2 separate regions of the Homo sapiens genome follow, and region 2 is linked to region 1. Evidence: fine-mapped expression QTL. Tissue or cell type: whole blood. Region 1 holds a variant in brackets; the other region holds the start of a gene. All regions are shown on one strand. Distances are between the middles of the regions. Region 1 overlaps PADI2 (peptidyl arginine deiminase 2). Region 2 holds the start of PADI2 (peptidyl arginine deiminase 2).

Region 1 (8,323 bases):
CCTTCTCATCACGGCAGTCCTCCTTGGGCAACCAGGGTGTCTCTCGGTCACAGTTCACCAGCAGGATGGCCCCCTGGCCCTCGGGGCCCCAGGTCCAGGATGCCTACAGTGGCAGGAAGAAAGGTCAGTGCCCTCTTCTCTATGCTTGTATAGACCCCATGGGACACTGGAGAGATAGCCCCAGGATGAGGGTAAAGAGTAGCCGCCACCCACTGGGGCAGCTGTGACCTGGCAAATGTGAATCTCAAGACTGATGTCCACAGAGGATGAATGTGGGCATCAAAGGCAAGTTCAATAGAGGCACAGAGACAGGAAGGCTGACTGAGGCATTTATGGGCCTCCTGTCTGGTGCAGCTGGTGTCTGGTGTGGGTGGAGGCAGGGAGGTGGAGGCTGGCCAGAGAAATGAGCAGACAGACATTCTACCATGGGTCCCTAGGTCCCTAGGGGAGCTCAGGAGGAGACGCCTGGATGGATGCCACCCAGCTGTTTCCAGACACGCTCCTAGTGCTCCGAATGGGACCTGCATGGTGCTCCACTTTCTACACTGCAGCCATAGCACTACTAGAACAAACTCGGGCCAGATTGTGTTGCTTCCCTGCTTTAAGCCAGGTCAGGGGCTCCCAGTTGAGTTGGCATGAAGCCCTGATTCCTTGCTGTGGCTTGGAAGGCCTGGTGAAACTTGCCTTCCTCTCTGTCTCATCTCCTCCGCCTTGCCCCTCGCTCACTCTGCCCCACCCATCCCGGCGCCTTTCTGCTCCCAAAAGACTCAAGCTCCCAGGCCTTTGCCTATGCCAGTCCCTCTGCTCCTGTCCTGCCCCTTTCCACCTGGCCCACTCTACCCTTCCTCGGTTACAGCATGACTGTCTCTTCTTCCTGGAGGCCTTTCTGATTCTCTAGGACAGAGCAGCTTCCCCGGGTCCACACCTGGCCCTGTACACATCCTTTTTGGGAGGACTTAGGACAACTGTGATGACACAGCTATCCGAAACACTCCATATTTAATGTGGACCATGGGCTCCTTAAGGCCAGGGCTGTGTTTCTCTTGTTCTTTCTGTGTCCCCTGGGCCTGACCCGCTCCTGGAACATAAAAGATGCTCAGCAAATATTTATGGGATGAGTGAAGAAAATGTGAAAACTTCACCGGCCCAGATTTAAAAATTCTGGCCAAGTTCAGGCTCATGGGGATCGTGTGACTTTCCCAAGACTGCCCAGCCCCTTGGGGGAGGTTGGAAGCTGTCGCCCTGGGGCTGCTGGGTTTCAGAGGCCTCTGTGGAGTTCATTCTCATATGGCTTGGCCATAGACTCAGAGAATGAGTGTGCAGGGCTGGCCCTGGTCTCAGGCAAGCCTTGCTCACGATCCTAGAAGAAGGGACTTCCCCACATGGCTGAGAACCCTCTCCTGACCTGCAGAGAGTCAGGGTAGCAGGCTGCTAGGACCCAGGCTTCTCATCAGGCTGTGTTTATTTTACTTCGTAAGTACCCCTCTATGTATACTTTACTCTAGGCTTCAGAGTGTTATTATAAAAGTCACATATGCCCATGGCAAAAATTGAGATAATACAGAAGGGCAGAAAATGGAAAGCAGTTAGAAGCAACAGCCTGAATGTACACAGAGCAAGACTGATGGAGCCTAAAAACTAGGTTGAGGGAAAAGTACAAAACAGAATGTGATGGAGAACACCATGCCGTCTGCACAAATTAAAAATACATGCACACCAACCACACCACATGCCTCCTGAGAGTCACCAGAGCAGAAAGAGACACATTAAACCCAGCAAAATGGTCCTCTGTGGGGGAGCAGAATGGGAGTGGGGAATGCAAGATAAAAGAAAATAAGTAAATGAACGAGGGAACAAATGAATGAATGGTGAATGAATGCAAGAATAAATAGAAAGAGGAGAGGGGCCGTGCATGCACCAGCAGAGATAATACCACGCCTGGAACTGAGAATGATGAATGCGACCCTCTGTCCTGAGGGTCTGTCTCCCCCACCTCCCTAGTCTTAAAAGAACAGGCAAAATAATAAGAGCAAATGCCTTCACAGTGCTTCCTCTGTAGCGGGCACATTTATCCTTCCCAGCAGTTCCATGAATTGGGCGTCCCCATCATGGGATGGAGAAACTGAGACTCAGGAGCCTGCTCTGTTGCCGTCTCTAGGAGATGCCTGAGCTCCTCTGTGGGTTCCATCATTGGTATGCTGTGTGTCTGGGAGCCTGTCTTGGGCTTTAGTCTCCTGAGCTGTGAAATGGGAATTGCCTGCGGGATCTGGGGCTGTGCCCTCGGAAGCCCTGGGTTCAGGGTGGTGCCTGCCCTGAAAGCTAGGTACCTTCTTTGGGTTGTTCTTCTCCACCACACCATCCCGGTCTGCGTCCACATCCAGGGAGATCTCTGGGGAGAAGAGACATGGGTGAGTTGCTGAGCCTGCCAGGCAGGGCAGGGCAGGGGCAAGAGGAAGACCTGTGGGATTTGGGTGCGTCTCAGCCATTCATTTGGTCACGGGAAAGAGAGGACCTCGCTGAAGTCATCTTATGCAACCCCCTGCCTCAACATCCCACTACCCACTGGAGACCGTCAGCAGACACCGTGTGGACCTCGTAGCTTACGGCTGCAAGAGCTGCCATCGGGGAGGTCTGGGACCTCCTACCACTTCATTGTTCTGGCTGGGGGTTGGGGAATGATCCTCGCTGCACAGATCTGGATGCCTCAGTTCAGAGGTGAAGTCGCATGCCCAAGATCACATAGGGACGCTAGCAGAACTGGGGTACACAGTGCGGTTGGTCTGATTCATAGTTCATATTCTGAAAACTTAACAGGGATAGCATTCCCAAACTGCCTTTCTCAGTCTACCCGGGCATGCGCATAGGTGTGCACATGTGCACCTGGGTGTGCGTGTCTCTTTCTCTCCCAGAACTTCCAGTGGGCTAGATCCCACCTTCAAGGACTGAGGGTTTTACTGTGGGTGGGAAGCTGTCTCTAACCCCTCTTGGTCTGAGGTCACCTGTGAGTCTAGATGGAGGATCCAGGGCCAGGCCCCCACTTATCCCTTCTCTTGGTGAAGGGACCCTCAGCATCCCTAGGCCTGCCATGGAGACAGGCTTTGTGGAGACTGTAGGGAAGTGAAAAGGTTTAGTATCAGACAAGGTGGGGTTTAGACCCTGGTTCTCTGCTTATAAGCTGTGTGACTTTGGGCAGGTTAGAGGACCTCTCTGAGCCCCAGTTTCCTCACTTGTAACATGGGGCCCTTCCTGGTTACAGCAGATGCATTAGCTGCAATGGAAGGCACTACTGACATTTTTGAGCCAAATAACTCTTTGTGTGGGGGCAGCCTGTGCATTGTAGGATGTTTAACAGCACTCCTGGCTTCTACCTACCAGATGCCAGTAACATCCCTCCCAGTCGTGACAGCCAAAAATGTCTCCAGATATTGTCAAATGTCCCTTGGGAGGCGAAATTGCCTTGAGTTGGAGACGGATGAGGTCGAGTAGGGATGTGGTTGGGAAGGTGTTGGGAGTGTCACACACATGACATGTGCCCGTTCCAGGTCCCCAGAGCTGCCCGAGTGGGCTCATCTCACGCTGAGCATGACTTGGACCTGGTGGGCGCTGGGTGGTAATGAATGCATTCCTGGTTAGTCCCCGTGGCAGGCACACCCTCTGCCTGGAGGGCATGGAAAGGAGGGTCCTGGCACACGAAGTGCACTGATGTCACCCTTCTCTGGGCCAACCAAGCCCAGAGTCCAGAGATCACATTCAGGTCCTCCCTTTGCCTATAGCCTGCATACCCTAGACCTGCATGTGACTTTTCCAGTCTAGAAGGAGGCTGCAAGGGCGCCTGGCCCTTGAGAGAGGCAGTCTTGTGTGTCCCAGCCTCTGCAGCTGTGCGGTGAGTTAGGTGCTGTAAGGCATAATTTGTAACCTCCTCCCTCCGATCGCATTCACTCCACATTTCACTGCTGAGGAGCTACTGCTCCGGGAGCTGTACCAGGCAACGGGCAATGGAGGCACAGCACCTGCTCTCAAGGCGTCCACAGTCCCATGAGATGAATAGCATTGCTCTCGTTTCACAGGGCAGCAAACCCAGGTTCAGAGAAGCCACTTGTCAGCAAATCGGGCTGGTAATCTGGGAGGCTGGTGCAGGATAAGGACCCCAGGGGAAAGAAGGGAAGGCGGTACCACCAGGGGCTAAGAGCCTGGGGTGCAGGGGCAGGAATAATACTGGTTTTGGTTCCTGGACCTTTGTGAACTTTCCAGCCGGTCACGTCCACTGAATGCTGCCTTTCAGGGAGCTGGCTTCCTGAAACTCCTCCCTCGGAAGGAGCCGCAGGTCCAGCCTCTTTAGGGAGCCACTCTGTCCTTTTCAAGGTAAAAATTTCTCCCCTGCGGGCATCCTGCTCTGCAGCTGCACAGCGTTTTCCAAGGTGTGTTCTCTCGGCCACTCCAGGGGAGGCGTGACCACCCCCACCCCCTAACGATACAGATGAGGAAACCCAGGCCCGCAGCAGGGAAGTGACCACCGAAGTTCCCAGAACGCAGAGCCAGGCTCTCAGCAGGGCCTCGGACTCCGGCTGCCTGCTCTCTGCTGTTCCCTGCAATGAACCCAGGCTGACCTCCCTGCAAGCTGTTTCCAAAAGCCCAGCCCAAAGTCAAAGACACAAGACTTGCTCCCTTGAAGGTCATTCCCAGAGGAAGTGCCCATTTCCCCACCTTGGTAGCCCTGCGGCCTTCGTCTCTAGGCCGTAAGGTGACATTACATTGGGACTCCTTGTGGCGAGTCCATTAAAGCAGTGGGGCCGTGGGCTAGGAGAGAAATTATGGTGCAGTCTATACTGCTTCATTTCATTATGAATTCTTAAATGGAAACATTTTATTCATGTAATATTTGGACATAGTACAAACAAAATCAAATAAAATAGTAACACACTGTTTCTAAAGAAAGACAGCAGTTCCTTGTCCAGCCCTTCTTCTCAGCTGCCTAAGGCAACCTCTCTCATGCTTATTGC[G/A]ATTTCCTGATTTACTGAATTCAGACAGGTTTCGTTACCTTCCTGTTACGAAATGTGGGCATTTCACAGTGTGGCTCCCTTATCGTCCTCCCAGCCTCTCACAGGGCTTCATAACTCCTCTCTGATGACCCATGACCTGTCCCCATAATCCACTGAAATGACCTTCTGGCCCCTTCACCCTCAGAGACCGCCCACCCTGTAGTCATGCCCATGGGACTTCGCCCCTGCAAGGCTTCCCCCAATGTCTGATTTAACTAGATTCCAGTGGGATGCTGCGGGTAGGGGCAGAGAACAGGGCTGGTGTGACCTGCCCAGAGCATTGCCTCTTGGGATGGCTCTGCCTTCCCGAGGGGGAGGAGGGAGAGGAGCTCTGCTTCAGGGCCTCCAGGCTCCAGACGACATTTCCCAGAGGCTCTGGATCCCACCTCAGTTCCCCAGAATAGCCCCAAGGCGTCAGGTGGCTCCTGGGTGTGGGGCAGATTGACGGGAAATGTCCCTAGGATTGGGTTCAAGGCAGTCTGCCCTGAGAATGAAGACACTGAAGCCTCAGCTCTGACCGAGAGGCACAAGCATTTTGGAGGGTCGCCAGAGAGTGGCAGGGTGCCTGGCCTTCTTGCCTTACTAAGCAGCTTGAGATGTTATGGGAAGGAAGGACACCCTCCCCCACAGCCAATCAGGGCAAGTATCCCAGCCTCTGGGGAGAAGGCATAGGATCAAGCCCCTTAGGTTGATGTTAAAATTTTCTGGGGCCCGCATATGTGTACTCCTTCCACTGCCAGGACCTCAAATAGGGTGGGATTCTTCCTCCCTCCCCACACCTCACCTCTTGCTCTCCCCCATCCCTCCCAAAAAATGGAAGTCTTTGCAAATCAACCCTAACCAGGGTCTTGAAGGTCCTTAGGGATTAATTAGCTCAAACCCCTTATTTTATAGTTTGTAAAAAGTGAGTCCTAGTGGGGGTGGTTACTTGTTAAGGTCACACAGCAAGTCCTTGGCGGGATTGGGACAAAGACCCAGAGCCTGATCTGGCCAAAGGAATCATGAATTTGCTCCCAAATCCCAGAAGGAAGAAGGAGAGACCATACATTTCTTTAACTTCACCCAGGCAGAGAGAAAATGCGGCCACCTCAAGAGCAAGAGAGAAAAGCAGGCGGAGCATTGACTAAGCACCCACTCTGTGCCGGGCCCTTCGCACACAACATCCCACTGAATCCTTGTAAACACCATGCAAGGCTGCTCTGTGAAGCGCATTTTATAGATGAGGAAGCCAAGGCTCAGGGGGATGATGTGACTTGTCACAAGCTGGCTGGAGGGGACAGAGAAAGATCTTAGGCTTACTTCTGTCTACCCAGAAGCCAAGGCTCTTTCTGCTCAATGTGGACTCAGGATAGGACCAGGGTGAGAGAGATTCAGATACATTTTTGTGCCCAGGGGACAGTCCCAGCCTCTCAAGATATTGGGGTTGGGGGGGGGCTTGCCTCTGAGGCGCTGCCCCTGAGTGATTGATTACTCAGGATGACGGGCTCAAGGGCTCCTGGGGCAGATGCTCGAGAAAAGAGAAAACCTAGAAGGGACAGAGAGAACAGTGGTCCCCAAGGGAAACCAGATTTTCACCAGGGTCTCTGTTGGAACAGGAAACAGAAGTTCAATGGTGTTAGTTTCTTTTTGCAATTGAATGACTGTCTCTTATTCTGTTTTTTGTTTTGTTTTGTGTTATTTTTGAGACAGAGTCTCATTCTGTCGCCGAGGCTGGAGTGCAGTGGCACTGTGTCAGCTCACTGCAACCTCTGTCTCCTGGTTTCAAGCAATTCTCCTGCCTCAGCCTCCTGAGTAGCTGGGATTACAGGCGTCCACCACCATGCCCGGCTAGTTTTTATATTTTTAGTAGAGACAGGGTTTCACCATGTTGGCCAGGCTGGTCTTGAACTCCTGACCTCAGGTGATCCGCCCACCTCGGCCTCCCAAAGTGCTGGGATTACAGGCGTGAGCCACTGTGCCCGGCCATGACTGTCTTTTATTCTGAGATTATGCCTTGCCTATTTTTTAAGAGTTAAAATGATAGTGATAGTTGATAGCAAATTTTTTTTTTTTTTTTTTTGAGACAAAGTCTCGCTCTGTCGCCCAGGCTGGAGGGCAGTGGCACCATCTTGGCTCACTGCAACCTCCACCTCTTGGGTTCAAGCAATTCTCCTGCCTCAGCCTCCTGAGTAGCTGGGACTACAGGTGCGTGCCACCACGCCCAGTTAATTTTTGTATTTTTAGTAGAGATGTGGTTTCGCCACATTGGCCAGGCTGGTCTCAAACTCCTGACCTCATGATCTGCCCACCTTGGCCTCCCAAAGTGTTGGGATTACAGGCGTGAGACACCGCGCCTGGCCACAAATTGTTTTATTGATGTATTTTTTTTTCTTTTTTTTGCCAAGCATCAAAGTTGTTAGTGTTCTCATTTTTTGGGGGGTGGGGGCAGGGGACATTTGATTGGCCCATGGAATCTAAATATCTGGAACTTGTGGCAGTTAAATAAATAATTATTAACAGACCTCGGAAGGATGAACTTGGTCACTTGTCGTGGGCACATGTGGCATCTTTTGGGACTCAGCCATGCCGCCAACTCTGAGCGGGCTTCCTCTAAGCACAGCTTTGTCATCTCCTAGTGAGGAGGAAAAGTCCAGTCCTGCCTCCTTATAGACGCTTATTTTGCCATCTATCCTAAGTCTGTCTTGCTTTGGTGGAAGTCTTGTTAATGGTGCAGTCAGCCTTCTGGGATCATCCTCATTTGACAGGTGTCAGGCCCCTGCCCTTCCTGCCCCCGTCCTCAGGTGTCCCTATCTTGGTGGGATTAGGTTTCCTCAGGGACTGTCATCTGAGACTGCCTGGATGCTGTGTGCATGCAAGGTTCACACACGTGCCAGGGCTCAGTACAACCCAGGAGTCTTTGTTGATCATCTGCCACCCTCACCAAGGTCATCCCGAGGTTCCCTACCCCAGGGCTGGGCACCTCCTTGGGACAGAAAGAGGGACAGGGGGACCAGCAACCAAGCCCATTTGGGAATTAGCCAAGAATGAGAAGGGCCCTGCTGCTAAGCCTGTTTAAGCAGCTGAGAGCACAGGGCTAGAGAGGAAGGGGCTGGCTCGGGAGTTAGTTGTATCTTGGGGAGATTCTGAGACCCCCCCTGAGAATGTGGGATAACTGGAATGATTGGCATCTCACCAACCATTTTCTGGAGATGTAGCTGCAGGCAAGTATTTGTTTTACCTTTTCTGAGCCTTGATTTTCTCATCTATAAAATGAGGATGATAATAATAATATCTATCCTTGGAAT
Region 2 (8,323 bases), 23 kb after region 1:
TGTCTGGAGGGGATCCTGTGTGCCAGCATCACAGGAAAGGGAGTCCAGAGCCCTTGGGAAAGGGAGTGGGTGCTGAGGCCGTTTCGCTCACCTTTGCGACTCAGAAGGAGTGAGGGTCAGGATGCCACTCCGTAATTAACTGGGCCCAGCACCCCCGGGCCTTGTTCCTTGGGGTCTACTTGGAGGCTCTGGGGGCATCACTTGGGGTCTTGAGCCAGGACCTGTGTCCGGGCAGCAAAGGACTCAGGGAAGAGTGGAGGGCCAAATGGGAGTTGGTGAAGTCTCTGGGGACAGTGGGCTCGTGGCCAGGGTGGAAGAGACACAGGCTGAGAGGGCCGTCCAGTTCAACCCGCTGGTTTTAGGGTCACATAGGACAGAGTGGGGTATAAGAGCATGAGTTCTGAGTCAAACAGACCTGGACCTGAGTCCTGTGTGACTCTGGACAAATGGCTTCATCTCTCTGAGCCTTACCTTCCTCATCTGTAAAATGGGATGATCAATGAACCCTCCAGGGTCTATGGTGAGGAAGAAAGGAGGTGGTGGGTTCAGTTCCTAAGTGCCCACTAATACCTCCTCCTGTTATCAATACTGGCAGTTGCTCTCATTACTACAGGTAACTCGAGTCACAATAGCAGTAACAACTCAAGCTCCTTAGTCCTGGAAGAGGCTTCCTTCCACTGGACCAGTGAGTCTCAGCTGGCTGTGATTTTGCCCCCTGCCAGGGGACTGCTGGCACTGTCTGGCAACATTTTTGGTTGTCACAATTTGGGGGTTGCTACTGGCATCTAGGGGACAGAGGTCAGGGATGCCACTAAACATCCCGCTACAACAAAGAAATATCGAGCCCAAAATGCAATAGTGCGAGATTGAGAAACTCTGCACTAGACCTGTTCTGTCCCGGTGTCACTGGCTCACGGTGGCCAGTGAGCACCTGAGATGCACTCAATCTACGCTGAGATGTGCTGAAGTGTAAAATGTGCACTGGATTACAAAGACTTAGCATGAAAAAAGGAAGGTAAACCATTTCCTTAATAATTTTTATATTGATTGCATGTTGAAATGATAATATTCTAAAATATTGGGTTAAACAAAATATATTATTAAAATTATGCCTGTTGTTTTAACTTTAAAAAAGTGTGGACTACTAGAAGATTTAAAATGCAATTGTGGTTTTGTTGTGGTTCAAACTGGACTTTTCTGGACAGTACTGGTCTAGAGCGCACTGCCCCTCTCTGTGGTGGTGGAGAACCTTAAGTGCCGGTGGGGGTTAGGGTCTTTGTGGTCGTTGAGACAGGACAAGGGGAATCGTCACACTGCTGCCCCCTGCTAGAGGGAGGCTGAGTCCATATCTGCCCCACTCTGTGCCCCTACCCCAGCTGGGCCTCTCTTTGCCAGGATAGAGCGATAGCAGGGCGCCTGAGCAGGAACCCTCCTTTGCTCCCCACCCCCGACTGGGAGGATCATGCCAGCTTTTCAGGCGGCACCAACCATGCCCCAGCAAATAAACAGGTGGGTATGGTGACAGCTGAGGCTTAGAGACCTGAGCACTCTGGCTCCGCGCCCACTCCCTAGCGGTGCCCAGTTCAGGGCTGGGGGTGGGGAAGGCAGGGGAGCTCTTGCACCCCACCAGAGCCTGGACCACCCTCCACTGCTGTGTTCTTGTTCTCAGAGACCACCCAGTCCACCTCTGAGGTTTACATGGGGGACAACTGAAGCCCAGGCCCAGGGGAAGGCAGAGGTTGAGGCCAGGGACAGAGGCATGGAGTGGGTCCCTAGTCCTGGGGCTTGTTGGTATCAGCGTGGCCAGTGCCTCTGCAGCGGTGGCAGGAGACTGGTTGGGCAGGTGGGAGGGCTGCCAGGGCTGTGTGGGGAGACACATGATGGGTTGGTGGGGGCCTGGGAGAGGCAGGGTGCTCCAGGTGTCAGGATGATTTGAGAGCCATAAACCACGATGGTGCCTCCGTGTGAGTTCAGCTTGAGGCAGAGAGGATAGGGGACTCATCCGGTGTCAGCACAGGGTCCCACCTCAGAGTCCTGCATGCTCCCTGCCCCCAGCACTGACCCCTCCAACCCTAGCAATGGGGAGGTTTTAAATGCTTGGAATAGAGGGGGCAGATCAAACCCCAGCATAACCCCACCCTTTCATTCACACCAGCCACACCTTTCCAAGGCCCCGTCCCATTACTCAGGGAGACAGATCATTGGACTTGGCTGCTTTCTGGGATTGCGGGGGGAGTGGTAGGGCCCTACCCTACCTTCAGCTGTCTCGGACATCCCGCACTCTACCAAGTTCTTGGACAGAGAGAAGGGGAGGGAGCAGAACTCTGAATCAGGATCCTTTTCCAACAAAGTACCCCGCTATACACCCCAAGTCCCCGTCGTCAGCTGGGTAGAATATTGTCCCTCTGTGGTCTCAGAATGAAGTCAGGGGAAGGTATCTGGGGACACGGAGCTCAGGGCCAGTGCCTGGGGACAAGCAACCACCAGCAGCCCCCACAGGGCGAAATCGGAGCCTGAGTAACCTCCAGGGCCGGATTCAGCCTCAGGGCAGCTCCCTTCGGGTCCTGCCCCAGTCCCCGGCAAGTCTCCGCGGAAGCTCCGCTGAACTGGGAGTGGGAAGCAGGAGAGGGGCTGGGTTGAGGTGGGTCCGAGGGGAAGTGAGGTGCGGAGGGGAAGTGAAAGGGGAGAGGACGGCAGGGAAGCTGAAGGGGTGTGAGGTCCCCCGGGAGGAGAACTGGAGAGGGCCAGACGGAGGGTTACGGGTGAAAGGGAGGGTCTGTGAGGGAGCTGGGGCTGAGGCTGTGTTAGGGGGTCTGGGAGAGTCTCAGGGTTTCTGGAAGGTGGACACAAGGTTCGGGGGTTGTCAGGTTTCTGGATGAGATTCTTAGGATTTCTGGGCTCGGGGGCTCGGGATGAGGGACAACTCGGGCTGGACAAAGGCTGTCCACGTCCCCGAGTCTGAGCGCGTCTCAGGATTTCTGGGCTCGAGATCTCGGCCCGGGCATCACGGTGGGCCGGCTCACCTGTAGACATCGGTCCAGAGGTAGGTGCCCAGCACGTACACCGCCTCCACGCGGCTCCCGTACTGCAGCCGCACGGTCCGCTCGCGCAGCATCCTCCCCGCCGCAGTGCCCGCGCTCGCTGGTCCGGGGCGGCCGGGAGCACCTGCAGCAGGTGCGCCTTCTCCAGCAGCCTGCGCCCCACGGCCCCGCGCGCAGCCTTATCCAGCGGCCGGTGGGCGGGGCGGCCCGCCCCAGTCCTCTCGCAGTGGGCTGCGGGCCTGTCCGTCAAGCGTGGTCCCGCCCCTAACTCGTCCCGCCCCGCTGAGGTCGTGGCGAAGTCATCAGGGACCAGTTTTGTGCTTTCCATGGTTGGATTGTCATTCTTTCATTCGACAAACCTTCGGTGGGCGCCCAGGTGTTGGAGGGCCCTAGCTCCCCTCCGGACGCCCCAGCCCAGTGGGGCTGAAAATGCAAATGTGGGAACACAAAGAGGGTGCCCTAACCCAGCCTGGGGGCCAGGAAGCCTTCCCAGAGAAGACGATCCTGGAACCTTCTTAAAGGAGGCGTTTGCAAATTAAAGGCGAGGAGAGGGAGCTGCCTGTGCAAAGCCGGGTGCAGCCCGGTACCCCCATCCCCCAACAGTCAGATGAACCTCACCATAGAGAAAACGGGAAGCGGTGGGGATGGGGAACCCGGCAGCTGAGGGAGACCAGGACGCCAAGCCAAGGCATTGGAGGGTGGGAGATGGGAGCCTGGAGTGGTTGTCTCCGCGAGCCGTGGTCGGGTGTGCTCGTGAAATGGGTCATTCTGGGCTGGGGAGGGGCAAGGAAGCCCCTGGCTGTGGCCAGAGCTGGAGAGGTGGGGACTGACCCGGCCACTGCTTAGGGACTGGGATTTTGGTGGCACCTGGTGACTGATAGGATGTGTGGGTGGAGGGAGAGGAGAGGGGTAAGGATTAGGGCCCCGGTTCTGGCCTGGGCCACCAAGGGAAGGGGGGTGCCACCCAGAGGTCATCGTGTGTCTCACAGAGGCTGAGATGTAGGATGACAATCAGTGTGGGCCTCGGCCAGCCCCTCCCATGTCCCAGCCCTTCCCCTGGGACCCAGTGGGAGTGCTGTTCAGACACATACATCAGCCCTGTGTGAGGAAGTGGTCTTTGGTAGGTGAGGACAGAAACTGAGGGGGGGTGGGCAGAGGCCGTGGGAGGGAAGGAGTGGGGCGGAGGGGATGTGTGTTTGGGAAGGAGTTAGAGCTGATGGAAGATGGAGCTCCAGGAACGGGTGCCCCCAGACAAGAGGGGTGAGGCCCACAAGTGCCCAGTGCTGATATACCCAGCCCTTGGACTCCAACCTTCTCCCTGAGGCGGCCCAAATTAGGAGGTGGTGAAGAGCCCAGCTGCTTCTGAGTGGCAGGGATTTGGGAGGAATGTGAGTGGGGAAGAGGGAAGGCCCGAGTTTTAGCCAGGAGGTCATTTGTCCCCCAAAGGCACAGCTCACAGACCCAGGGAGAGGCCAGTAACTGTTTTTTTTTTTTTTTTTTGAGACAGAGTTTTCCTCTTGTTACCCAGGCTGGAGTACAATGGCGCCATCTCAGCTCATTGCAACCTCCGCCTCCCAGGTTTAATTGATTCTCCTGCCTCAGCCTCCCAAGTAGCTGGGATTACAGGCAGGCACCACCACACCCAGCTAATTTTGTATTTTTAGTAGAGACGGGGTTTCTCCATGTTGGCCAGGCTGGTTTTGAACTCCTGATCTCAGGTGATCTACCTGCCTCGGCCTCCCAAAGTGCTAGGATTACAGGCGTGAGCCACAGCGCCCGGCCGAGGCCAGTAACTTCTGATGAACTCCAGGCACCCGGCTGAGCACATCCTCCAATCAGGAGGAATCTCTCGGGTGGCCACCTGCCAAACTGGGACAAAACTTGTGTAGCTTGGAGAGACTTCGAGGCGCCCCCAGAGGTGAGCTCGTGTCTGGGCACCCCTCTGCCACGAGTGACTTTGGAGCCCTTACTGTGTGACAGATAACGGGCACCCACCAGGGTTCTCACCTTCCTGGGGCTCTAACTTTCATTTGACTCATGGGGAGACTGGGGCCAGAGTGGGGGAGGACACTGTACCCCCCACTGACGGAGACCCCGGGCAGCTCATAACAGGACACTGGGCAAGATAGTGATAACATCAGACCGCAATACCCAGGGGAGCTGGAGTAAGAGCGGGCACTTACTGCTTTCTTTCTGTGGGTCAGGCACTGTTCCAAGCGGCTCTTTTCATGTATTAGAGTTAGATCACTGAACCCTCCCAGTAACTCCGCCACTTTACAGATGAAGAAAGTGAGCTGTGAGGAGGTGGGGGAATTGACTCTGGGTTGCAGAGCTCCTAAGAGTGGCAGAGGGAGGAGCTTGCAGGGCCACTGGGGTGGAGGCAGGGGGCAAGGCCGAGTGAGGGCAGGGGCAGAATGCTGTCCATGCTTTGTAGATAAGGAAGTCGCAGTTCTAGGCCCAGCTCTGCTTTTGTGCCGCCTTGGGCCAGGTACCCTGCCATTCGGAGCCCCATTTTCTGCCTCTGTGAAGTAACTGATCCCTCAGCACGGTGTAAGGACGGTATTAAACGAGACAACAAGGTGCAGAAAATACTAGCACAGAGCCTGGCACAAGGCTCAAGAAATGAAGCCCCCTCCCCTTAAAAACCCAATTCAGACCTGGCCACCCACACTCAGGACTCCTGCCCGGGCTCAGGCCATCATGTTGGGCCCAGAGCCTGGTTGATGAGACAGGAGTTTCCTGGTGCCCAGAGGTTTAAAATAGCTGAAGTAGTCACAGCTGTTGGTGGATTCAGGGCCGGAGGTCGCATGCATCACGGCTGCTCCCACCTCTCCCCTGGGATCCGGAAGAGCCACAAAGCATCTCACGGTGTCTTTTGGGGACTTAGCTTAGGCCAGTTCCTGGCACAGACCCGCACCCACCCCTCCAGCAAGCGCCCCTGCCAAGCCTGTGGGCAGGGTGCCTGGGCTAAGAGGGGCTCTTCTGAGCTGTTTTCTGTTAGGTTCCTCCACTGGGTGTGGGGTCTCCGGGCCAGGCCTTGGGGGAACCAGGGAGGCCACTCAAACTTCGACAAGCCTGCTTTGAGGAAACAGACAGCTTACTGAGAGCACTATACATACAATAATTTAAAAAGAAAGAAAAAAATGCACAAGTATTACCTGGTCATTGTGGAAAAGTTAAAAAAAATATGATCACCCATGACCCTAGTACCAGAGATCAGTCTGAATCTATGAGTATGATCTGGCCGGGCTGCCCACAGGCTGCTGTGGGGCAGCACACTTCCTGAGCCCTTGCGCCATGCCAGGAGCTGTTCAGAGCCCATTCACACACACATCTCAGCCTGTTTAATCCTCACGACAGCCCTGTGAGGTGAGAGCTATTATTATCTTCCATCTGCACAGAGGCACCAACCAGCCTGCAGTGAAGAGCATGGACTTTGGTCTTGGTGGACCTGGGGTCAAGTCTGGCTCTGCCCCTCACTAGCTGGGGGCCTCTCTGGGCCTCAGTTTCTTCTTCTATAAAGGAGATACTAGGAATTGTTATAAGGAACAAGGAATAACAAGATGATATCCAGTAAGGTACTGCACATCGTGGCCTGGCACAGACCCAAGTTCCAGTAGACGGTAGTTATTTCCTATGCGTATATAGTTATTTTAAGTTTTTGTAAACATGGGCTTCTGACTACATGCTGTTTGATAACATACTTCAAAGCTTCCACAATGTGAGAGGCTGGGCTGGCTGTGGCCAGGTCACACAGAGCATTGTAAGTCGTGGAAAAGGCTTTGGGGCTTTATCTTTATGGGGTCATGGGGGAAGCCTGGGAAGGACTTTGGAAGGTGTCAACGGCACGATGTACACTTTAGGAAAATCACTCTGGCTGCTGTAGGCAGCTAAATTTGACAGGAATTCTGGCAGGAGACCAGAGAAAGGAAGAGGTCGGGGTCTGGGCCATGGATCCCCAAAGCAATCCTTCTGTGGCCAGGGATCGCCCCAACCCCTGACTCTGCACCATGGGGACCTGCAGTCATACCCTCAAGAGCAGATCCCCATAACCCTGGCCCTGCCTGGCCCCGTCACATTCCCTTTCCCCTGGCAAAGCCCACCCTTTGGTCTCACTCCCTTGAGAAGAGTCTCTGGGATGGGGGCGTTGATTCAGCCTCTGCCTCAGCTCTCGGTCCTGAGAGACATCGTGCTCAGAGGCGGGGAAGGGCTGGGGTGCTCCATTGTTCTAATACTGCGTGAGTTCAGAATGAGGAAGTCATGTCTCTTCTGCGTGCTGCTGTGGCTGTACCCCACTCGGGGGTACATTTATATATGCAGAGAGAGAGATTTATTTTAAGAAATTGGCTCACATGGTTGTGGGGGCTGACAAGCCTGAAATTTGTAGAGCTGGCCAGTCAGAAATGGGAGAAGAATTGATGTTGCGGTCTTGAGTCTGAAATCTACAGGTTGGAAACAGCACGGTTTCTATGTTGCATTCTGGAGGCTGAATTGCCTCCTCTTTGGGAAACCTCAGTCTTTGTTGTTAAGGCCTTCAACTGATTGGATGAGGCCCACCCACATTTTGGAGTGCAATCTACTTTACTCAAAGTCTACTGATTTAAACGTTGATCACATCTGAAAAATATCTTCACAGCAACATCCAGACTGATGTTTGACTGGATGATGGGGTGCCATAGCCTGGCCAAATCGACACAGAAAATTAACCATCACCATGCTGAAAGATGGGCTAAGGCTTTCATTCATTAGGTCACCATTTATGGAGCATTTATTCCCTGCCAGGCACCTGCGCTAAGCACTGTGTGTATGTTATCCCATTGAATCCTTGCTACAACCCCAGAAGTAAGTATTTTTCTTACCCTTATTTTATACATCCAAGGGTAAGATGACTTGTCCGGGCCAGGGTTCTACCCTTAGTCAGTGAAGCAAAGCTAGAAAGGTGAATTCTGGAGAAGATGTAATAAGCCAGTTGTCTGAGGGGCTGCCAGGGGGCCAGAGTAAGCCTGGGAGGTCCTAGACCCATGCTTTCCAACATGTAGCCACTGCCAGACAAGGTTTATGTGGCTAATCTGAACTGACACATGCTGTAGGTGTAAAACAGTGGTCCCCAACCTTTTTGGCACCAGGGACCTGTTTTGTGGAAGACAGGCTTTCCATGGATGGGGGTGGGGATGGTTTCGGGATGATTCAAGCGCATTACATTTCTTGTGCACTTTATTTCTATCATCACATTGTAATACATAAGGAAACAATTTTACAATTCACCGTAATGTAGAATCAGT

Evidence for each region. PIP is the estimated chance that this variant, and not a neighbour inherited with it, causes the effect.
Region 2: PADI2 starts here. The variant in region 1 is fine-mapped to the expression of PADI2 in whole blood (INTERVAL, PIP above 0.99). The same link has a PIP of 0.9 or more in blood mononuclear cells.

Annotation. Positions count from the first base shown.
Region 1 is chr1:17,093,582-17,101,904 of GRCh38, forward strand. It overlaps PADI2 (peptidyl arginine deiminase 2), which reads right to left. Exons shown (of 16, transcript NM_007365.3): 4 at 2,328-2,389; 5 at 1-103. Among named protein-coding and RNA genes, the nearest start is that of PADI2, 22 kb to the right of the region's middle. The variant G/A (reference allele first, on the strand shown) is at 5,001.
Region 2 is chr1:17,116,257-17,124,579 of GRCh38, forward strand. It overlaps PADI2 (peptidyl arginine deiminase 2), which reads right to left and starts at 3,195. Exons shown (of 16, transcript NM_007365.3): 1 at 3,024-3,195. The coding sequence starts at 3,115. RefSeq lists silencers at 3,005-3,214, 5,737-5,920 and an enhancer at 3,786-4,320.